3 separate regions of the Homo sapiens genome follow, and all the other regions are linked to region 3. The links come from fine-mapping of genetic effects on plasma protein levels. A gene starts in region 3. Each other region holds a variant in brackets. All regions are shown on one strand. Distances are between the middles of the regions.

What was found. PIP is the chance, under the fine-mapping model, that this variant and not a neighbour inherited with it causes the effect. The UK Biobank Pharma Proteomics Project read protein levels with antibody pairs (Olink). The fine-mapping took linkage between variants from a reference panel, not from the people measured, so its PIPs are less certain.
Region 1: its variant is fine-mapped to the plasma level of the CA9 protein (UK Biobank, PIP above 0.99).
Region 2: its variant is fine-mapped to the plasma level of the CA9 protein (UK Biobank, PIP above 0.99).

Annotation. Positions count from the first base shown.
Region 1 is chr9:36,155,897-36,163,609 of GRCh38, forward strand. GLIPR2 (GLI pathogenesis related 2) reads left to right here. Exons shown (of 5, transcript NM_022343.4): 5 at 6,466-7,713. The coding sequence ends at 6,626. Among named protein-coding and RNA genes, the nearest start is that of CCIN, 9.6 kb to the right of the region's middle. RefSeq lists enhancers at 5,855-6,435, 6,436-7,016. The variant G/A (reference allele first, on the strand shown) is at 3,978.
Region 2 is chr9:33,766,452-33,774,164 of GRCh38, forward strand. The region is part of intron 3 of UBE2R2-AS1 (UBE2R2 antisense RNA 1); the gene reads right to left. It also overlaps a transcript of PRSS3 not described here. Among named protein-coding and RNA genes, the nearest start is that of PRSS3, 25 kb to the right of the region's middle. The variant C/T (reference allele first, on the strand shown) is at 4,286.
Region 3 is chr9:35,670,784-35,678,496 of GRCh38, forward strand. It overlaps CA9 (carbonic anhydrase 9), which reads left to right and starts at 3,145. Exons shown (of 11, transcript NM_001216.3): 1 at 3,145-3,579; 2 at 4,755-4,784; 3 at 4,978-5,148; 4 at 5,281-5,423; 5 at 5,514-5,606; 6 at 7,007-7,073. The coding sequence starts at 3,177. It also overlaps the pseudogene RN7SL22P.

The sequences.
Region 1 (7,713 bases), 490 kb after region 3:
ACCCCATCTCTACAAAAACAATTAAAAACTAGGCTGGGCACGGCAGCTCACACCTGTAATCCCAGCACTTTGGGAGGCTGAGGTGGGCGGATCACCTGAGGTTGGGAGTTCGAGACCAGCCTGGCCAACATGGTGAAACCTTATCTCTACTAAAAATACAAAAATTAGCCAGGCATGGTGGCGCACGCCTGTAATCCCAGCTACTTGGGAGGCTGAGGCACAACAATCGCTTGAATCTGGGAGGCGAAGGTTTCAGTAAGCCAAGATTGCACCACTGCACTCCAGCCTGGGTGACAGAGCAAGACTCCATCTCAAAAAATTAAAAAATTAAAAAATTAAAAAACTAGCTGGGTGTAGTGGCACGTGCCTGTGGTCCTGGTTACAGGAGGCTGACGTGGGAGGATTGCTTGAGTCAAGGAGTTGGAGGTTGCAGTGAACCATGATTGCACCACGGCACTCCAGCCTGGACAACAGAGTGAAGCCATGTCTAAAAAAAAAAAAAAAAAAAAAAAAAAAGAAATTGTAGTAAAGCACATATAACTGAAAATTTACCATTTTAACCATTTTAGGTATACAGTTCAGTGGGATTAAACACATTTACACTGTTATGCAATCATCGCCACCATCCATCTCTAGAATTCTTTTCATCTTCACAGATTAAAACTCAGTACCCCTTAGACCAGGGGACCCCAACTCCTGGGCAGTGGACCTGTATGGGCCCATGGCCTGTTAAGAACTGGGCCGCACAGCAGGAGGTGAGCCTGGGTGAGTAAGATTACTGCCTGAGCTCCGCCTCCTGTCAGATCAGCAGTGGCGTTAGATTCTCATAGGAGCATGAACCCTATTATGAATTCCTCACGCAAGGGATCTAGGTTGCATGCTCCTTATGAAAATCTAATGCCTGATGATCTGAGGTGGAACAGTTTCATCCTGAAACCATCTCCACCCCACCCCAACCATTGTTCTACTTTTGGTTTTAACTATTCTAGCTACCTCATATAAATGGAATCATACAATATTTGCCCATTTGTGTCTGGCTTATTTCACTTAGCATCATGTTTTCAAGGTTTACCCTTATTAGAGCACGTGTCAGAATTCCTTTTTATTTTAATTTATTTTATTTTATTATATTTTATTTGAGACGGAGTCTCACACTGTTGCCCGGGCTGGAGTGCAATGGCGTGATCTTGGCTCACTGTAACCTCTGCCTCCCGAGTTCAAGCGATTCTCCTGCCTCAGCCTCCTGAGTAGCTGGGATTATAGGCACCCGCCATCATGCCCAGCTAATTTTTTTTTTTTTTTTTTGTATTTTTAGTAGAGATGGGGTTTCACTATGTTGGCCAGGCTGGTCTCGAACTCCTGACCTCTTGATCTGCCCACCTTGGCCTCTCAAAGTGCTGAGAATACAGGCATGATCCACCACACCCAGTCTCTTTTTTATTTTTATTTTTTTATTTTTTATTTTTTTGAGATGGAGTCTCATTCTGTCGCCCAGGCTGGAGTGCAGTGGTGTAGTCTTGGCTCACTGCAACCTCTGCCTCCCAGGTTCAAGCGACTCTCCTGCCTCAGCCTCCCAAGTAGCTGGGGTTACAGGCACCCACCACCATGACCAGCTAATTTTTATATTTTTAGTAGAGACGGGGTTTCACCACATTGGCCCGGCTAGTCTCAAACTCCTGACCCCAGGTGATCCACCCGCCTTAGCTTCCCAAAGTGCTAGGATTACAGGCATGAGCCACTACGCCCGGCCTCAGAATTTCTTTTTAAAGCTGAATAATATCTGTTAAACACACACACACACACACACACACACACACATATATATATACACATATATACATATATATCTCCCACATTTTGCTTATCCTTTCACTTGTTGATGGACACTTGGGCTGTGTGTCTTTGTGGGTTTTTTTTTTGTTTTTTGTTTTTTCGAGATGGAGTCTCACTCTGTTACCCAGGCTGGAGTGCAATGGCACAGTCTCGGCTCATTGCAACCTCTGCCTCCCAGGTTCAAGCAATTCTCTTTCCTCAGCCTCCCCAGTAGCTAGGATTACAGGCGTGTGCCACCACACCTGGCTAATTTTTCTATTTTTAGTAGAGACGGGGTTTCATCACATTGGCCAGGGTGGTCTTGAACTCCTGACCTCAAGTGATCCGCCCACCTCAACCTCCCAAAGTGCTGGGATTACAGGCGTGAGCCACTGCGCCCGACCGGGCTATGTGACTTTGGGCCAATCTTTCAACCTCTCTGCTAGGAGCATGGGCGTATAAATATCTGAATCCCTGCTTTCAGTACTTTTGGGTATATACCTAGAAGTGGAATTGCTGAGTCATTGCAATTCTGTTTAATTTTTTGAGGAACTGCCATACTGTCTTCCAGAGCAGCTGTGCCATTTTACATTCCCATCAGCAGTGCACAGAAGTTCCAATTTCTCCACTTCCTTGCCAAAACTTGTTATGTTCTATTATTTTTGTTTCTGTTTTTCATAGTAACCATCCTGCTGAGTGTGAAGTGGTTGCCCTTTTTTCTTTCTTAACCACCCTATGGGAATCTTAGATACTCTGATCATGACTTTCCTCCTCCCTCCCTCCGTTTCTTCCTTTCCTCATCAAATGTTTATTGAGCATCTACTATGTGCCAGGCCCAGTGCTAAACACTAGGTATATGGTGATCAATAAAACAGATGTGGCACGTGCCCTCACATAGCTTGCCCAATCATAAGCCAGATATTTAGGAGGGAACAATCTCTTCAGTGTTGCTTTAGCAAATGAATGCCATCCTGTGACACAGAAAATAAATGTCTCATTGATCTCTGTAAATGCTAAACCATAAAGATGGAAGGGATGAACATCTGCCTCTACTCCCCAAGAAATAAGAATTTAGGCCAGGCATGGTGGCTCACGCCCGTAATCCCAACACTTTGGGAGGCTGAGGCAGGCAGATCACTTGAGGTCAGGAGTTTGAGACCAGCCTGGCCAACATGGTGAAACCCCATCTCTACTAAAGATACAAAAATTAGCTGGGCGTGATGGTGCTCACCTGTAGTCCCAGCTACTCAGGAGGCTGAGGCATGAGAATCACTTGAACACAGGAGGCAGAGGTTGCAGTGAGCTACGATCGCGCCACTGCACTCCAGCCTAGACAACAGAGAGAGACTCTGTCTCAAAAAAAAAAGAATTTATGATCGTTGAGCAAAGAATGCATTACAGCATCAACTCTTTGACTCCCAAATGGGAGGAGATTTGGAAGCTAAGCTATATTCGTAGCTTGAAAGGACAAGCGAGTGAAGGACAGGAAGCCTGAGAAATGGGAGACTGATGCTAAGAGGCCTCAGCAAGACCTAGTGGTGTCTGGAGGGTGGAGCAGTAGCTTGAAAAGGAACTGAGATGTTTGGCTCAGAGCAGAAGGATTTGAACGAGGCTGTAATGTGTCGAAGTCTCAAAAAGCTCAAAACATAGAATGCTGCACTTCTAGTGAAGGCAGAACTGGAGTCCAAGATGGATCTTCTATATTACTTTTATTCATCAGTTCCACTCATTCTTTCAAACATTTATTTTACACTTTTCATGTGCCAGGCTATGCCAAGGTACTGGGTGCATTTTGGTGATTAAAACAAACTTGGCCTCTGCCCATATGGACACATAGCCTGGTGAAGGAGCCAAACAGTAACCAAGTAATCAAGCAAATGCATCACACAAATGGGAAGAATGGTACATAGGGGAAAAAATGGTGTGGTAAGAATATCTTGGGAGGGAGATGGTCGGTAAATAAAAGGGTGTTTACAGGCTGGGCATGGTGGCTCACACCTGTAATCCCAATACTTGGCTGGGCCAAGGCGAGTGAATCACCTGAGGTCAGGAGTTCAAGACCAGCCTGACCAGTATGGTGAAACCCATCTCTACTAAAAATACAACAATTAGCCGGGCATAGTGGCGTGCACCTGTAATCCCAGCTACTTGGAAGGCTGAGGCAG[G/A]AGAATTGCTTGAACATGGGAGGTGGAGGCTGCAGTGAGCCGAGATCACGCTACTGTACTCCAGTCTGGGCAACGGTGAGACTCCGTCTCAAAAATAAATAAATAAATAAAAGGGTGTTTGCAAACGACTTCTTTGAACAAATGATATTTAGGCTAAGACCAAGGGACAAGAAGCTGTTGGTCATCAGAAGGGTGTCTTGGCCAGGCATGGTGGATCATACCTGTAATCTCAGCACTTTGGGAAACCGAGGCAATTCTCCTGCCTCAGCCTTCCCGATTAGCTGGGATTACAGGCATGCACCACCATGCCCGGCTAATTTTGTATTTTTAGTAGAGATGGGGTTTCTCCATGTTGGTCAGGCTGGTCTCCAACTCCCAACCTAAGATGATCCGCCCACCTCGGCCTCTCGAAGTGCTGGCATTGCAGGCGTGAGTCACGGCGCCCGGCCTTACAAATACTTTTTGAAAAATGATTCGGCAGTGGCGGCATGTGCCTGTGGTCCCAGCTACTCAGGAAGCTGAGGTGGGAGGGTCTCCTGAGCCCTGGAGGTGGAAGCTGAAGTAAGCTATGATCATGCCACTGAACTCCATCCAGCCTAGGTGACAGAGATCCTGTCAGAAAGAAGGGAAGAGAAGAGAAAAAGAGAAGAGGAAGGGAAGGAGGGAGAGAAGAAAAAAGAGAAGAAGAAAGAAGGAAAACAGAAGAAAAAAAATGTGCAAGGGTTCTGAGGTGGGACATACTCTGGTGTGTTCAAGGAATGGAGAGGAGGCCACTGCACCAAAGGATTCACTTTCATTCTAAGTGCATTGGGGAGCGAGTGAAGGATTGTTAAGCAGGGAAGTAAATAGATATGATTTATATCTCAGAATGGTCACTCTGAATACTAAGTAGAAAATGAGGCTCACGCCTGTAATCTCAGCAGTTTGGGAGGCCGAGGTGGGCAGAGCACCTGAGGTCAGGAGTTCAACACCAGCCTGGACAACATGGTGAAACCTTGTCTCTACTAAAAATACAAAAAAATAGCTGGGCATGGTGGCACACACCTGTAGTCCCAGCTACTTGGGAGGCTGAGGTGGGAGGATCACTTAAACCAAGGAGGTGGAGGTTGCAGTGAGCTGAGATCATGACACTGCACTCCAGCCTGGGTGACAGGGTGAGACTCGTCTCAAAAAAAAAAGAAAAGAAAAAGAAAATGATTTTGAGGGGCCAAGGTGGATGCCATAGAACCAGTCAGGAGGCTATTGCAATGGTCCATGTGAGAAAAGTTTGCAATTGGGACCAAGGGTTTGGGAGTGGGTGGACCTGAGATGCATTTTAGAGTTGGATTCTTCAAGACTGAATACTAGGTTGTTGTGGGGAAAAGGAAGAAGAGGAGGGATGCAGACTCCCCCTGGCAGTGTGCACATGGAGGTACCATTGATGGAGATGGGAGGACTGGGAGAGGAATAAATCTAGGGGGACAAAAACTGGGAGTGAGGTTTGGAAAGGTTAAATCTGAGATGCCTGTGAGTCATCCATGTGGAAATGTCCAGTAATTAGTTATGTCTGGAACACAGAGCAGTGATTTGAGCTGGAGAAATAAATTTGGGAGCCAGGGAAAGATGAAATTCCCTAAAGAGAGCTTAGAGGAAAAAAAAAAAAGGGCCCAGGATTGAGCCCTGGGAAGTGTGGGTCCTTCAATATCTATAAGTGAGGGCGAGGAGGCGGAAGAGGAGGCAGTGAGACAGGAGGAATGGCAAGAGACTGTGGCATCCTAGAAACCAAAAGGGGGAGGGGTGCCTTGAAAAGGAGAAGAGTAGGAAGTGTTCCTCAGGTGTCAAGTAAGATGAAGACAAAAGGGGATCACTGGAGAGCTTCAAGATTACAGCTTGGGGACAGGGTTAGACACAGGCAGTAGGCAGTAGAGTGGCATCCTAATTGTTGGGGCCACTGGGCTTTGTCGTGATCTCTGGGAGACTGTTGGAAGGTGGTGAGGTGGGTAAGGTCTGTGTGGCTGATAGAAAGGACCTGCTTTAGAATTCAGGCAGTCTGGCCAGGCACAGTGGCTCACACCTGTAATCCCAGCACTGGGAGACTGAGGCAGGTGGATCGCCTGAGGTCAGGAGTTCGAGACCATGGTGAAACCTCATCTCTACTAAAAATACAAAAAAATTAGCTGGGCGTGGTGGCATGCACCTGTAGTCCCAGCTACTTGGGAGGCTGAGGCAGGAGAATCACTCGAACCCAGGAGGTGGAGGTTGCAGTGAGCCAAGATCATGCCACTGCACTCCAGCCTGGGTTACAGAGCGAGACTCCATCTTGGGGGAAAAAAAAAGAAGTCAGGCAGTCAGAGTGTTTTCTCTCTCCTTCCCCTGCAGGGGGTCTGTGAAGACCATGCTGACCTGAGCCTGGCAAGATGGTACAGGGGTTCAACAATCCCCTGCCACATCCTTCTTCAGGCTCTGCTAATTCAGCCGTGTCCCTCTCCCTCTGCCCGTTCCCCTACAGGACACTTCACGGCCATGGTATGGAAGAACACCAAGAAGATGGGCGTGGGGAAGGCGTCCGCAAGTGACGGGTCCTCCTTTGTGGTGGCCAGATACTTCCCAGCGGGGAATGTTGTCAATGAGGGCTTCTTCGAAGAAAACGTCCTGCCGCCGAAGAAGTAACTTGTTAAATGTAATGGGAAGGTGGCAGACTTAAGAACGTGGATATGAAGTGCCTAGAACCACCACAACCTGGCTGTGCGTCTGTCCCTGTGGGTGTATGTGCTTGTGTGTGTGATGCATGTGAGCGTCTCTGGCACACACACTTGGACATACAGTTCTGTGTGCGCTCATTCTTATTACAGGAGTGAGCAAAGGAAGCATTTACCCCGATGGTTACCTAGACCACGATTATTTGGATTGGGGGGAGGGGGGATCCGTTTTTTTTTTTTAATTTTTTGTTATTTCTAAGCAAACCTCTTTTGTACTTTTCTTACTTCTAATATCCATCCCTGGACTTTTTGTATTCCAAATGTTTGTGATGCTGAGAAGTGAAGTTCATTTTATGTGATCTTCATGCGTCGTAATCTACTTTTGGTAGATAATTAAGATTATTAAACCCTCATTTAAATGTGACATAAAATACAGCTTTAAGCACATAAATACAAAGCAGCTTCCATCAGGAACATGGAGCAGGCAGGGACTCCATTTTACAGAATTACTGAGATTTCTCAGTTGTAAAACATGATGTCATCCTGCATGCCTCCTGGAATTCTCCAATGGGGTCGCCAAACAACAAATGGAGAAAAAAAGTTTTACTTCCTTGCATTCTTCTACCTTTAAATAGCAAAGTACCACTACCACCACCACCTCTTGCCCCCTTCCCTCTTTTCTTAAACTTCTGGCATTTCAGAGCTCAGCAGGCTACCCCTGGTTTCTGGAGAGTTGGGCTAGGCCTGAAGCTCCCCCTCCCCCACCTCTGCTAGGCAGCCCAGGCCTGGTCTGGGAGACAGCCCCTCACCCTGCCTGGGCTCTTGGCCAAGCGGCCTTGGATGGATGAAGTCAGAGAGGTGGGGTGAGGGTGAGCTTACTCAGGGCCCCCAGAGGAAGCCCTCAGCCTCTGCCCTCCCCCCACACAGGGCGGGAGCCCAGGCCTGTTCCTGGCAGCTGTGGCTGCAGCTGTGCTCCTGCTCCCTCCTGGAATGTGCGACAAGCCCAAATGTTCCGGGGAGGCGGCCGGGGCAGGGGGCTTAGAAGTGCTAATATGGTT
Region 2 (7,713 bases), 1.9 Mb before region 3:
AGTCCCAGCTACTCGGGAGGCTGAGGCAGGAGAATGGCGTGAACCGGGGAGGTGGAGCTTGCAGTGAGCAGAGATCGCACCACTGCGCTCCAGCCTGGGCGACAGAGCAAGACTCTGTCTCAAATAAATAAATAAGTAAATAAATAAATAAAGGAATGAAGTGCTGATACATGCTATACCATGAATGAATCTTGAAAACATTATGCTGAGGGAAAGAGGCTGCATCTTGTATGATTTAATTTATATAAACTGTCTAAATTAGGCAAATCCACAGAGACGGAAAGCGTATTACTGATTGCCAGGGGCTGGGGGTGCTGGCAGGAAATGGGAATGACTATCAATGTGTATGGGATTTCTTTGGGGGTTGGTAAAAGCATTTTAAAATTGAATAGTTGTAATTTTATATAAAATTAGATAGCAATAATGGTTGCACAACTGTTAGTAAACCAAAAAATACCAAATTAAACACCTTAAAAGGATAAATTTTATGGTATGTAAATTACATGGTGGATTTTTTTTTTTTTAAGTAGAAGAGTAATGGCAATAAAGTACGGAGAACCATCTTAGGGTGACTTTCAGAGCCATCAGGAAAAACTGTCACAGAAATAAAAAGTAAAAAAACTTAGTAAAGTTGTTGAAATAGTTGTAGCTTGTTATACACCTGAGAGTTATTTTTCACAGTGATTTAGTAATTAAATCTATAAAAGGAAATGTGTTAATTGGCCAGGCCTGGTGGCTCACACCTGTAATCCCAGCAATTTGGGAGGCCCAGGCAGGTGGATCACCTGAGGTCAGGAGTTCGAGACCAGCCTGGCCCGACAGAGGGAGACTCTGTCTCAAAAAATAAACAGAAAAAGTAAAAAATAAAGGGAAATGTAAGTGTGAATTGATGAATGGATAAATAACATATGGCATTATGGGCAGAATTTTGTCTCCCCCACCTCCAAGTGTATGTGATGAAGTCCTCACCTCCAGTGCCTCAGAATATGCCTGTGTTTGGAGACAGGGTCTTTAAAGAAGTAATCAAGTTAAAATGAGGTCATTAGGACAGTAATCCAATATGACTGATATCCTTTAAGAGGAACTTTAGGGCCGGGCGCGGTGACTCACATCCGTAATCCCAGCACTTTGGGAGGCCAAGGCGGGTGGATCACCTGAGCTCAGGAGTTCCAGACCAGCCTGGCCAACATGGTGAAACCCCGTCTCTACTAAAAATACAAAAAATTAGCCAGGCGTGGTTGCAGACACCTGTAATCCCAGCTACTCAGGAGGCTGAGGCAGGAGAATCACTTGAACCCAGGAGGCAGAGGTTGCAGTGAGCCAAGATTGTGCCACTGCACTCCAGCCTGGGCAACAAGAGCGAACCTCTGTCTGAAAAAAAAAGGAACTTTAGACACAGACACACACAGAAAGAAGACCATCTGAAGACACAGGGTGAAAGCGGTCATCTGCAAGCCCAGGAGAGAGGCCTCAGAAGAAACCCATTCTGCCAACGCATTGGTCTCAGACTTCCAGCTTCCAGAACTGTTAGAAGATAAATGGCTGTGGTTTAAGTCCCCCAGCCTGTGGGCCTTTGTTACAGCAGCCCTGGCAACCAGTACAGATTTGGGTACCAAGAAATAGGGTGCTGGTGAGCAGACGTGGCTTTGGAACTAAACAGTGAGTAAGGGCTGGAAGAGTTTGGAGGTGCATGTTGGAAAAGGCCTAAATTGCCTTAAAGAGACTGTTGATAGAAATGTGGACATTAGCTGGGCGCTGTGGCTCACGCCTGTAATCCCAGCACTTTGGGAGGCTGAGGCGGGTGGATAACTTGAGGTCAGGAGTTCAAGACCAGCCTGGCCAACATGGTGAAACCCCGTCTCTACTAAAAATACAAAAATTAGCCAGGCGTGGTGGCATGTGCCTGTAATCCCAGCTACTCAGGAGGCTGAGGCAGAAGAATTGCTTGAACCTGAGAGGCAGAGGTTGCAGTGAGCTGAGATAGCACCACCGCAGCACTCCAGCCTGGGCAATAGAGCGAGACTCAAAGGAAAAAAAAAAACAACAACAGAAATGTGGACATTGAAGGTGATTCCAGTGAGGACTGAGAAAGAAAGAACAGAGCTGTAGAGAAAGCACCTATCAGCTGGGCACCGTGGCTCACACCTGTAATCCCAGCACTCTGGGAGGCCAAGACAGGTGGATCACCTGAGGTCAGGAGTTTGAGACCAGCCTGGCCAACATGGTGAAACCCCATCTCTACTAAAATACAAAACTTAGCCAGGTGTGGTGGCATGCACCTGTAGTCCCAGCTACTCGGGGAGCTGAGGCAGGATAATTGCTTGAGCCCGGGGGGCAGAGGTTGCAGTGAGCCAAGATCATGCCACTGCACTCCAGCCTGGGTGACAGAGAGAAACTCCGTCTCCACAAAAAAATAAAAATAAAAAAGGAAAAGAAAATGCGTCTATCATCTTAGAGAATACATGTATCATCAGGAACAGCATGTTGGTTGAAATATGAATGTTAAAGGTACTTCTGGTGAGAACTTGGACAGAAATGAGAACATGGTATTAGAAACTAGAAGAAAGATGGACCTTGTTATACAGTGGCAAAGAAATTTGTTGAATTGGATTCTCATGTTTCATGGAAAGCAGAACTTATAAATGATGAACTTGGATATTTAGCTGAGGAGATTTCTAAGCAAAATACTGAAGGTGGCCTGATTTCTTCTTGCTGCTCATAGTAAAATATGAAAGGAGAGAGATAAACTAAAAAAGGAATTTTTAGAAAAAAAGGAACCAAAACTTTTGGAAAACTCTCAGTCTATCCATTCTACAAAAAATGAGAAAGCACATTCTGGAGAAAAGACCAAGGGTGTGGCTGAACCCCCATCTGAAAAGATGGCCAATGTGATGCATGGATACAGTCAACCAACTCAGCAAGTCGGGAACAGAGATGTGGTTTTCCCAGGAACTTCTGTGGAGGGCCCTCTTGTCAAATGGCCTCGCCCCCTATGGATTGCATAGGAGGCCAACAAGGTTTTTCAGAATTTATACCAGCAGACATTGCCAGTTTGGACCAAAGGAGACAGAAATAGGAAGAAATGAAGGAAGATTCTCAGACTTCTGGAATTCTGCAGGACCAGCCAGTACAGCGATATGGCTATGATCATGAGTTATCCTTAAAGGAAAGAGAAGAATGACCCTGAAGCTAGTTCAGAGATCTGCCAGGTTGCTACTGCCACCTTGGGCCCAGGGCACACAGATTCAGGGGCAGGACTGGTGCCATTTCCTTGGTTTCAGCAGGCCAGGATGCCCCAGCCCAGGACCAAGGGGTGGGGCCACCATTTAGGGTAGAGGAATCAGGGTGATGGCCCTGGAAGGCAGGGCCACCCTGTGGACCCAGACAACAGAACACTGAGCCAAAAAGGATTATTCTCAAGCCTTGGAATTGGGCTGGGCGCGGTGGCTCACGCCTGTAATCCCAACACTTTGGGAAGCTGAGGCAGGTGGATCAGGAGTTGGAGACCAGACTGGGCAACATGGTGAAATCCTGTCTCATATAAATAGCCTTGCATGGTGGCTCATGCCTGTAATCCCAGCTACTTGGGAGGCTGAGGCAGGAGAATCACTTGAACCCAGGAGGCAGAGGTTGGAGTGAGCCAAGATCGTGCCACTGCACTCCAGCCTGGGCGACAAGGGTGAAATGAAACTGTCTCAAAAAAAAAAAAAAATTGAACGGAATTTGCCCTACCAGGTTCCAGGACAGGAGATCCATGACCACTTTCTTCTTTCCAATGTCCCACTTTTAAACTAGAAATGTCTATACTCTGCCTGTCCTGTTTGGGAAGCAGATAATTTCTTGTCTGGTCATAAAGGTTCACAGCTGGAGAAGAATTTTGCCTCAGGATGAACCATACCTCAAATCTCACCCATACCTGGTTTAGACGATACTTACATGAGATTTTGGACTTACAGTTGATGCTGGTCTGGGTTAAGACTTCTGGCACTGTTGGGATGGGGATGAGTGTATTTTGCATATGAGAAGGACATGGATTTTCAGGGAGCAGAGGACAGGGTGTTATGGGCTGAGTATGCTCTCTCCAAATTCAAATGTTGAAGTCTTATCTCCCAGTACCTCAGGATGTGACTCTTTTGAGATAAGATCTTTAAAGAAGTAATTAAATTAAAATGAGATCATTAGGGTGGGGCCCAAATGCAGTATGAGTAATGTCCTCATAAGAACACAGACACACACAAGAGGATGACTATGTGAGGACACTGAGAGAAGATGGCCACCTCCAAGC[C/T]AAGAAGAGAGGCCTCCAGAACTGAGAATGTAAATGATTGTTTAATCTGCCCAGTGTGTGGTACTGTCTTACCAGCCCTAGCAACCAGTATATGTGGTGTACCCACACAACGAAGTACCATTCAGCCATCAAAAGGACTCAGTGCTGATTCATGCTTACAACATGGAGAAACCTGGGAAATATCGTGCCAACAGAAAGGGCCAGTCACAAAAGGCCACATATTATATAATTCAATTTATGAATTGAAAGGCAAACCTGTAGAAATATAAAATGACTGGTGGCTGCCTGCTGGACACCCTGCAATGCACAGGACAGCCCCACAACAAAGACCCCTGTGGCCCAGAGTATCAGCAATGCCGAGGCTGTGAGATCCTGCTCTCACCCAGGCCTGCTTCCCAAAGCCCTTTAGTCCTGAAGAGAGAAGAGAACAGGCTGCCTTCTTTCTTTGTTATTGAAATCCCACTTACTCCCTCTTAGAGCATGTTCTTCTCCCTTTAAGACCAGCCTTGGCTGGTCTCCACCACATGTAGATGGGGCTGGGGAAGGAGAAGACTGGTGAGAGTGAGGGGTTTCTTTTCCTTTTTTTTTTTTTATGTTTTGAGATGGAGTCTTGCTCTGTCTCCCAGGCTGGAGTGCTGGAGTGCAGTGGCGCGATCTCAGCTCACTGCAACCTCTGCCTACTGGGTTCAAGAGTTTCTCCTGCCTCAGCCTCCTGAGTAGCTGGGATTACAGGTGCCCACCACCACGCCCGGCTGATTTTTGTATTTTTAGTAACAGACAGGGTTTCACTATGTTGGCCAGGCTGGTCTTGAACTCTTGACCTCAGGCAATCCGCCCGCCTCAGCCTCCCAAAGTGCTGGGATTACAGGCATGAGCCACTGCACTGGGTTTTGTTTTTTTGTTTTTTTGTTTTTTTTTTTTTTGAGACAGGGTCTCTTCTGTTGCCCAGGCTGGAGTGCAGTGACATAATCATGGCTCACTGCAGCCTCAACCTCCTGAGTAGCTGGGACTACAGGCATGCACCACCACACCCAGCTAATTTTTTTTCTTTTCTTTTCTTTTCTTTTTGTTTTTTTGTTTTTTTGGTAGAAATGGAGTTTCACCATGTTATCCAGGCTAGTTTCTTTCTTTCTTTTCTTTTTTTTTTTTTTTTGAAACTAAATCTTGCTTTATCACCCAGGCTATAGTGCAGTGGCTCAATCTCAGCTCACTGTAACCTCTGCCTCCTGGGTTCAAGCTATTCTCATGCCTCAGCCTCCCAATTAGCTGGGACTACAGGTGCCCGCCACCATGCCCAGCTCATTTTTGCATTTTTAGTAGAGATGGGGTTTCACCATGTTGGCCAGCCTGGTCTCAAATTCCTGACCTCAGGTGATCCACCCACCTCAGCCTCCCAATGTGCTGGGATTACAGGCGTAAGCCACCGCGCGCAGCCCCCAGGCTAGTCTTAAAGGGAGAAGAACATGCTCTAAGAGGGAGTTAAGTGGGATTTAAATAACAGAAAGAAGGCAGCCTGCTGTCTTCTCCCTTCAGGACTTAAAGGGCTTTGGGAAGCAGGCCTGGGTGAGAGCAGGATCTCACAGGCTCGACATTGCTGATACTCTGGGCCACAAGAGTCTTGGCTGTGGGGCCATCCTGTGCTTTGGAGGATGTTCAGCAGTGTCCCTGGTCTCCACTCAGAGAAGCCAGAGTGCCACCACCAGTCCCCGTTGTGAGCCATTGGACTCAAGAATGACCTAATGGCTTAACCTTGTACTGTGACAGAGCCTGAGTTGCCTGAATTTTAATGATACAAAGAATTTTAATTATACTAATTTTATTTTATTTTAATTTTTTTGTGAGACGGAGTTTCGCTCTTGTCGCTCTTCTTGCTTGTCTCGCCAACATCTCATGAAAAACCTTCTAGGACAGCTGGGATACCTCCAATTCATTCTTTTTAATGGTTATATAGCATCTCATAGTAAAGATAAAATATAATTTATTCATTCAAACACGTGGTTGGAACTTGAGTAGAGGCCCAAGCTCTCTGGGGTATTTGGGATCTATATATTTTGTGTCTGCCGCCACAAACTGGGAGACATTTGCTTTAACTCTCCACCTGTGGGAGCAACGTAATGTTAGAGAGTGCTGGTTGCCAAGCCTAGGCACTCGAGGAGAAAAACAAAATTCACCTTCCCCCTTTTTCTGATCCTTCCATTCATCTGGACATCTCTTCTTTCACCATTTCCTGCTTTCCCCCCTCTAAAATAAGGGAAAATTACTGCTTTGTTTTTTTAAAGCACCGTATCAAGTTTTACTTTTAACTACAGCCAAATGGCATCAACCATAATTTCTCCTTTCCTTGGCACCATTTCCTCTCTCTTCTTCTGTGCCTCTGCTTCCCTCTGGTTTCCTTGCTCCTCATTCTCCCTTACTCTTGCCTCCATTTTCTCTTTCTGACTCCTTCTATCTTATCTTCTATTTCACTTATCTCAAATGAGAGAGAGAGAGAGAGAAGGAAGGAGAGAGGGAGGGAGGGAAGGATCCAATGATCTCCCTAGATATGAAATAAAAAGGAACAGTTGCCCAAACCTCCAGTCTTCTTGGTTGCCAGCTTGGTTGCTATTTTTAATACTAGGCCATAGCAGCAAATCAGCCAGGGATTTAATAGGGAGATTCTAGAAATGAGAGTCATGGAAGTGTTGAGATGAGGTCTTCACACATCCCTAGCTGACTGAAAAAGCTATGCATCTATGGGGAAGACCTGAGACAGCACAGCAGAAAGTGAAAGGCAAAGTTACTACTTGTCCAAAACATTCAATCCTCCCCTCACACTCCCATCATATCTCATGTGAAATTAAAAAAAGAGGAAATATATTGAAATAAGAAAGTTGGGGAATTTGCCTTTGTGAAAGCACTTATTTTTTTCCTTTGGAGACAGGGTCTCACTCTGTCACCCAGCGGTGGAGTGACACGGAGTGTCAGCGGTGCGATCACGGCTCACTGCAGCCTCAACCTCACAGGCTCAAGCAATCCTCCCATCTCAGCCTCCCGAGTAGCTTGGACTACGGCGTGCCCTTCCATGCCCAGCTAATTTATTTTTAGTAGAGACAGGGGTCTCACTATGTTGCCCAGACTGATCTTGAACTCCTGGGCTCAAGCAATCTTCCTACCTCAGCCTTCCAAAGTGCTGGGATTACAGGTGTGAGCCACTGCACCTGGCCTAAAAGCATTATCTGATATTTGTTTTCCTATTCGTAAGTTTGTCCTTAGATTGAAAGGTTTTATTGTATATTGCACACACCAGTTGTGTATATTAGGAAACATTCCTTAAGTATTTTTTTATTTAACATTTATTTTATTTAAATGTTTTTAATGCTAAACCACAGCAGGGGCTTAGCCTATATTTGGAAAATGGGTTATCCAAATTATTTAGAAGTCCAAATTTT
Region 3 (7,713 bases):
GACAGTAAAATTTTTTTTTTTTTTTGAAACAGTCTCGCTTTGTCGCCCAGGCTGGAGTGCAGTGGCGCGATCTTGGCTTACTACAAGCTTTGCCTCCTGGGTTCACGCCATTCTCCTGCCTCAGCCTCCTGAGTAGCTGGGACTACAGGCGGCCGCCACCACGCCCGGCTAATTTTTTTTTTTTTTTTTTTTCAGTAGAGACGGGGTTTCACTATGTTAGCGACGATTTTTGTCTGTTTGTTTGTTTTTGAGACAGAGTCTCACTCTGTCGATCAGGCTGGAGTGCAGTGGCGCGATCTCGGCTCACTGCAACCTCTGCCTCCCAGGTTCAAGTGATTCTCCTGCCTCAGCCTCCTGAGTAGCTGAGATTACAGGTGCCTGCCACCATGCCCAGCTAATTTTTGTATTTTTAGTAGAGACGGGGTTTCACCATGTTGGCCAGGCTGGTCTCGAACTCCTGACCTCAGGTGATCTGCACACCTCGGCCTCCCAAAGTGCTGGTATTAGAGGCATGAGCCACTGCACCTGGCCAGTAAAACTATTTGTGACACAGCAGCAAGTGCACAAGCACTGACCTATCAGAGTTGAAGGTGGCTGAGGCACTCAAGTGGGCTCCTGGGGACTCTGTTATGCCAGGGAATACCTCTTTAGATAAGGGATCAGGAGGTCTGGAGGGTCCCTAAGGAAGAGCTAGGGTAGCAGGGGTACCCTGGAGCTAGGGGCCATGGCTATATGCCAACAGGATTAGAAATATCTTAATGTATTTAATTAACCTACACAACCATATTGGTGGGTGCCTACTGAATATTAGCCCTAGATATGGACCTGAAATGGCCTTATTCTCTTTTAGTTTGTTTAAGCCAATGGAGCCTTACTAGAATGTGAGCTACAAAACAGTAGAGCTATTCTCTATTCAATGCTGCATCTGTAGGGCCTAGAACAGCACCTGAAGGACTGGCGGAGGCTTAATAAATTGTTAAAAGGGCAGACTAGCCAGGTGTGATGGCGTGTGCCTGTAGTCCCAGCTACTTGGGAGGCTGAGGCAGGAGGATCACTTGATCCCAGGATTTCTGGGCTGTAGTGTAGTATACCAGTCAGGTGTCTGCACTAAGTTCTGCATCAACCTGGTTGCCTAAGGATGGTTGAACTGACCCAGGTGGAAATTGGAGCAGGTCAAAACTCAATGCTGATCAGTAACAGGGTCGCACCTGTAAATAGCCACCGCCCTCCAGCCTGGGCAACACAGTGAGATCCCATCTCTAAAATAAATTTTAAAAATAATTAATTAGAAAAAAAAACCAGCCTGTAATCCCAGCACTTTGGGAGGCCAAGGCGGGCAGATCACCTGAGGTCAGGAGTTCAAGACAAGCCTGGCCAACATGGCAAAACCCCAATCTCTACCAAAAATACAAAAATTAGCTGGGCGTGGTGGCAGGTGCCTGTAGTCCCAGCTACCCAGGAGGCTGAGGCAAGAGAATCGCTTGAACCTGGGAGGTGGAGATTGCAGTGGGCCGAGATCGCGCCACTTCACTCCAGCCTGGGTAGCAGAGTGCGACTCTGTCTCAAAAAAAAAAAAAAAGAAAGAAAAGAAAAGAAAAAGAAAAGAAAAGAAAAAAACTGGGAGGCCTAAGCCCATTCTTGGTGTCCTCACACTCTTCTGCCCCATCTCCTTGCACCCAGTCTTCCCCTGCAATCTGTGCTCCATACTAGCCCTCAAGCCCTCAACGTGACCTAGTATGAGAACTGGATTCTGTCACTCTCCTGCTCATAATATTTTATGCCTTCCCTTTGCCCAGAATATCATTCTCCCTATTGTTTTTACCAATGGAACTGGTATTTCTTCAAGGACATGATCAAATTTGCCTACTTCTATATTATCTTCTAAAGCAGAATTCATCTCTCTTCCCTCAATATGATGATATTGACAGGGTTTGCCCTCACTCACTAGATTGTGAGCTGCTCAGGGCAGGTAGCGTTTTTTGTTTTTGTTTTTGTTTTTCTTTTTTGAGACAGGGTCTTGCTCTGTCACCCAGGCCAGAGTGCAATGGTACAGTCTCAGCTCACTGCAGCCTCAACCGCCTCGGCTCAAACCATCATCCCATTTCAGCCTCCTGAGTAGCTGGGACTACAGGCACATGCCATTACACCTGGCTAATTTTTTTGTATTTCTAGTAGAGACAGGGTTTGGCCATGTTGCCCGGGCTGGTCTCGAACTCCTGGACTCAAGCAATCCACCCACCTCAGCCTCCCAAAATGAGGGACCGTGTCTTATTCATTTCCATGTCCCTAGTCCATAGCCCAGTGCTGGACCTATGGTAGTACTAAATAAATATTTGTTGAATGCAATAGTAAATAGCATTTCAGGGAGCAAGAACTAGATTAACAAAGGTGGTAAAAGGTTTGGAGAAAAAAATAATAGTTTAATTTGGCTAGAGTATGAGGGAGAGTAGTAGGAGACAAGATGGAAAGGTCTCTTGGGCAAGGTTTTGAAGGAAGTTGGAAGTCAGAAGTACACAATGTGCATATCGTGGCAGGCAGTGGGGAGCCAATGAAGGCTTTTGAGCAGGAGAGTAATGTGTTGAAAAATAAATATAGGTTAAACCTATCAGAGCCCCTCTGACACATACACTTGCTTTTCATTCAAGCTCAAGTTTGTCTCCCACATACCCATTACTTAACTCACCCTCGGGCTCCCCTAGCAGCCTGCCCTACCTCTTTACCTGCTTCCTGGTGGAGTCAGGGATGTATACATGAGCTGCTTTCCCTCTCAGCCAGAGGACATGGGGGCCCCAGCTCCCCTGCCTTTCCCCTTCTGTGCCTGGAGCTGGGAAGCAGGCCAGGGTTAGCTGAGGCTGGCTGGCAAGCAGCTGGGTGGTGCCAGGGAGAGCCTGCATAGTGCCAGGTGGTGCCTTGGGTTCCAAGCTGAGTCCATGGCCCCGATAACCTTCTGCCTGTGCACACACCTGCCCCTCACTCCACCCCCATCCTAGCTTTGGTATGGGGGAGAGGGCACAGGGCCAGACAAACCTGTGAGACTTTGGCTCCATCTCTGCAAAAGGGCGCTCTGTGAGTCAGCCTGCTCCCCTCCAGGCTTGCTCCTCCCCCACCCAGCTCTCGTTTCCAATGCACGTACAGCCCGTACACACCGTGTGCTGGGACACCCCACAGTCAGCCGCATGGCTCCCCTGTGCCCCAGCCCCTGGCTCCCTCTGTTGATCCCGGCCCCTGCTCCAGGCCTCACTGTGCAACTGCTGCTGTCACTGCTGCTTCTGGTGCCTGTCCATCCCCAGAGGTTGCCCCGGATGCAGGAGGATTCCCCCTTGGGAGGAGGCTCTTCTGGGGAAGATGACCCACTGGGCGAGGAGGATCTGCCCAGTGAAGAGGATTCACCCAGAGAGGAGGATCCACCCGGAGAGGAGGATCTACCTGGAGAGGAGGATCTACCTGGAGAGGAGGATCTACCTGAAGTTAAGCCTAAATCAGAAGAAGAGGGCTCCCTGAAGTTAGAGGATCTACCTACTGTTGAGGCTCCTGGAGATCCTCAAGAACCCCAGAATAATGCCCACAGGGACAAAGAAGGTAAGTGGTCATCAATCTCCAAATCCAGGTTCCAGGAGGTTCATGACTCCCCTCCCATACCCCAGCCTAGGCTCTGTTCACTCAGGGAAGGAGGGGAGACTGTACTCCCCACAGAAGCCCTTCCAGAGGTCCCATACCAATATCCCCATCCCCACTCTCGGAGGTAGAAAGGGACAGATGTGGAGAGAAAATAAAAAGGGTGCAAAAGGAGAGAGGTGAGCTGGATGAGATGGGAGAGAAGGGGGAGGCTGGAGAAGAGAAAGGGATGAGAACTGCAGATGAGAGAAAAAATGTGCAGACAGAGGAAAAAAATAGGTGGAGAAGGAGAGTCAGAGAGTTTGAGGGGAAGAGAAAAGGAAAGCTTGGGAGGTGAAGTGGGTACCAGAGACAAGCAAGAAGAGCTGGTAGAAGTCATCTCATCTTAGGCTACAATGAGGAAATTGAGACCTAGGAAGAAGGGACACAGCAGGTAGAGAAACGTGGCTTCTTGACTCCCAAGCCAGGAATTTGGGGAAAGGGGTTGGAGACCATACAAGGCAGAGGGATGAGTGGGGAGAAGAAAGAAGGGAGAAAGGAAAGATGGTGTACTCACTCATTTGGGACTCAGGACTGAAGTGCCCACTCACTTTTTTTTTTTTTTTTTTTGAGACAAACTTTCACTTTTGTTGCCCAGGCTGGAGTGCAATGGCGCGATCTCGGCTCACTGCAACCTCCACCTCCCGGGTTCAAGTGATTCTCCTGCCTCAGCCTCTAGCCAAGTAGCTGCGATTACAGGCATGCGCCACCACGCCCGGCTAATTTTTGTATTTTTAGTAGAGACGGGGTTTCGCCATGTTGGTCAGGCTGGTCTCGAACTCCTGATCTCAGGTGATCCAACCACCCTGGCCTCCCAAAGTGCTGGGATTATAGGCGTGAGCCACAGCGCCTGGCCTGAAGCAGCCACTCACTTTTACAGACCCTAAGACAATGATTGCAAGCTGGTAGGATTGCTGTTTGGCCCACCCAGCTGCGGTGTTGAGTTTGGGTGCGGTCTCCTGTGCTTTGCACCTGGCCCGCTTAAGGCATTTGTTACCCGTAATGCTCCTGTAAGGCATCTGCGTTTGTGACATCGTTTTGGTCGCCAGGAAGGGATTGGGGCTCTAAGCTTGAGCGGTTCATCCTTTTCATTTATACAGGGGATGACCAGAGTCATTGGCGCTATGGAGGTGAGACACCCACCCGCTGCACAGACCCAATCTGGGAACCCAGCTCTGTGGATCTCCCCTACAGCCGTCCCTGAACACTGGTCCCGGGCGTCCCACCCGCCGCCCACCGTCCCACCCCCTCACCTTTTCTACCCGGGTTCCCTAAGTTCCTGACCTAGGCGTCAGACTTCCTCACTATACTCTCCCACCCCAGGCGACCCGCCCTGGCCCCGGGTGTCCCCAGCCTGCGCGGGCCGCTTCCAGTCCCCGGTGGATATCCGCCCCCAGCTCGCCGCCTTCTGCCCGGCCCTGCGCCCCCTGGAACTCCTGGGCTTCCAGCTCCCGCCGCTCCCAGAACTGCGCCTGCGCAACAATGGCCACAGTGGTGAGGGGGTCTCCCCGCCGAGACTTGGGGATGGGGCGGGGCGCAGGGAAGGGAACCGTCGCGGCAGTGCCTGCCCGGGGGTTGGGCTGGCCCTACCGGGCGGGGCCGGCTCACTTGCCTCTCCCTACGCAGTGCAACTGACCCTGCCTCCTGGGCTAGAGATGGCTCTGGGTCCCGGGCGGGAGTACCGGGCTCTGCAGCTGCATCTGCACTGGGGGGCTGCAGGTCGTCCGGGCTCGGAGCACACTGTGGAAGGCCACCGTTTCCCTGCCGAGGTGAGCGCGGAGCTGGCCGAGAAGGGGCAAAGGAGCGGGGCGGAGCGGGGCCAGAGACGTGGCCCTCTCCTACCCTCGTGTCCTTTTCAGATCCACGTGGTTCACCTCAGCACCGCCTTTGCCAGAGTTGACGAGGCCTTGGGGCGCCCGGGAGGCCTGGCCGTGTTGGCCGCCTTTCTGGAGGTACCAGATCCTGGACACCCCCTACTCCCCGCTTTCCCATCCCATGCTCCTCCCGGACTCTATCGTGGAGCCAGAGACCCCATCCCAGCAAGCTCACTCAGGCCCCTGGCTGACAAACTCATTCACGCACTGTTTGTTCATTTAACACCCACTGTGAACCAGGCACCAGCCCCCAACAAGGATTCTGAAGCTGTAGGTCCTTGCCTCTAAGGAGCCCACAGCCAGTGGGGGAGGCTGACATGACAGACACATAGGAAGGACATAGTAAAGATGGTGGTCACAGAGGAGGTGACACTTAAAGCCTTCACTGGTAGAAAAGAAAAGGAGGTGTTCATTGCAGAGGAAACAGAATGTGCAAAGACTCAGAATATGGCCTATTTAGGGAATGGCTACATACACCATGATTAGAGGAGGCCAGTAAAGGGAAGGGATGGTGAGATGCCTGCTAGGTTCACTCACTCACTTTTATTTATTTATTTATTTTTTTGACAGTCTCTCTGTCGCCCAGGCTGGAGTGCAGTGGTGTGATCTTGGGTCACTGCAACTTCCGCCTCCCGGGTTCAAGGGATTCTCCTGCCTCAGCTTCCTGAGTAGCTGGGGTTACAGGTGTGTGCCACCATGCCCAGCTAATTTTTTTTTGTATTTTTAGTAGACAGGGTTTCACCATGTTGGTCAGGCTGGTCTCAAACTCCTGGCCTCAAGTGATCCGCCTGACTCAGCCTACCAAAGTGCTGATTACAAGTGTGAGCCACCGTGCCCAGCCACACTCACTGATTCTTTAATGCCAGCCACACAGCACAAAGTTCAGAGAAATGCCTCCATCATAGCATGTCAATATGTTCATACTCTTAGGTTCATAATGTTCTTAACATTAGGTTCATAAGCAAAATAAGAAAAAAGAATAATAAATAAAAGAAGTGGCATGTCAGGACCTCACCTGAAAAGCCAAACACAGAATCATGAAGGTGAATGCAGAGGTGACACCAACACAAAGGTGTATATATGGTTTCCTGTGGGGAGTATGTACGGAGGCAGCAGTGAGTGAGACTGCAAACGTCAGAAGGGCACGGGTCACTGAGAGCCTAGTATCCTAAGTAAAGTGGGCTCTCTCCCTCTCTCTCCAGCTTGTCATTGAAAACCAGTCCACCAAGCTTGTTGGTTCGCACAGCAAGAGTACATAGAGTTTGAAATAATACATAGGATTTTAAGAGGGAGACACTGTCTCTAAAAAAAAAAACAACAGCAACAACAAAAAGCAACAACCATTACAATTTTATGTTCCCTCAGCATTCTCAGAGCTGAGGAATGGGAGAGGTCTATGGGAACCCCCCTTCATGTTCCGGCCTTCAGCCATGGCCCTGGATACATGCACTCATCTGTCTTACAATGTCATCCCCCAGGAGGGCCCGGAAGAAAACAGTGCCTATGAGCAGTTGCTGTCTCGCTTGGAAGAAATCGCTGAGGAAGGTCAGTTTGTTGGTCTGGCCACTAATCTCTGTGGCCTAGTTCATAAAGAATCACCCTTTGGAGCTTCAGGTCTGAGGCTGGAGATGGGCTCCCTCCAGTGCAGGAGGGATTGAAGCATGAGCCAGCGCTCATCTTGATAATAACCATGAAGCTGACAGACACAGTTACCCGCAAACGGCTGCCTACAGATTGAAAACCAAGCAAAAACCGCCGGGCACGGTGGCTCACGCCTGTAATCCCAGCACTTTGGGAGGCCAAGGCAGGTGGATCACGAGGTCAAGAGATCAAGACCATCCTGGCCAACATGGTGAAACCCCATCTCTACTAAAAATACGAAAAAATAGCCAGGCGTGGTGGCGGGTGCCTGTAATCCCAGCTACTCGGGAGGCTGAGGCAGGAGAATGGCATGAACCCGGGAGGCAGAAGTTGCAGTGAGCCGAGATCGTGCCACTGCACTCCAGCCTGGGCAACAGAGCGAGACTCTTGTCTCAAAAAAAAAAAAAAAAAAGAAAACCAAGCAAAAACCAAAATGAGACAAAAAAAACAAGACCAAAAAATGGTGTTTGGAATTGTCAAGGTCAAGTCTGGAGAGCTAAACTTTTTCTGAGAACTGTTTATCTTTAATAAGCATCAAATATTT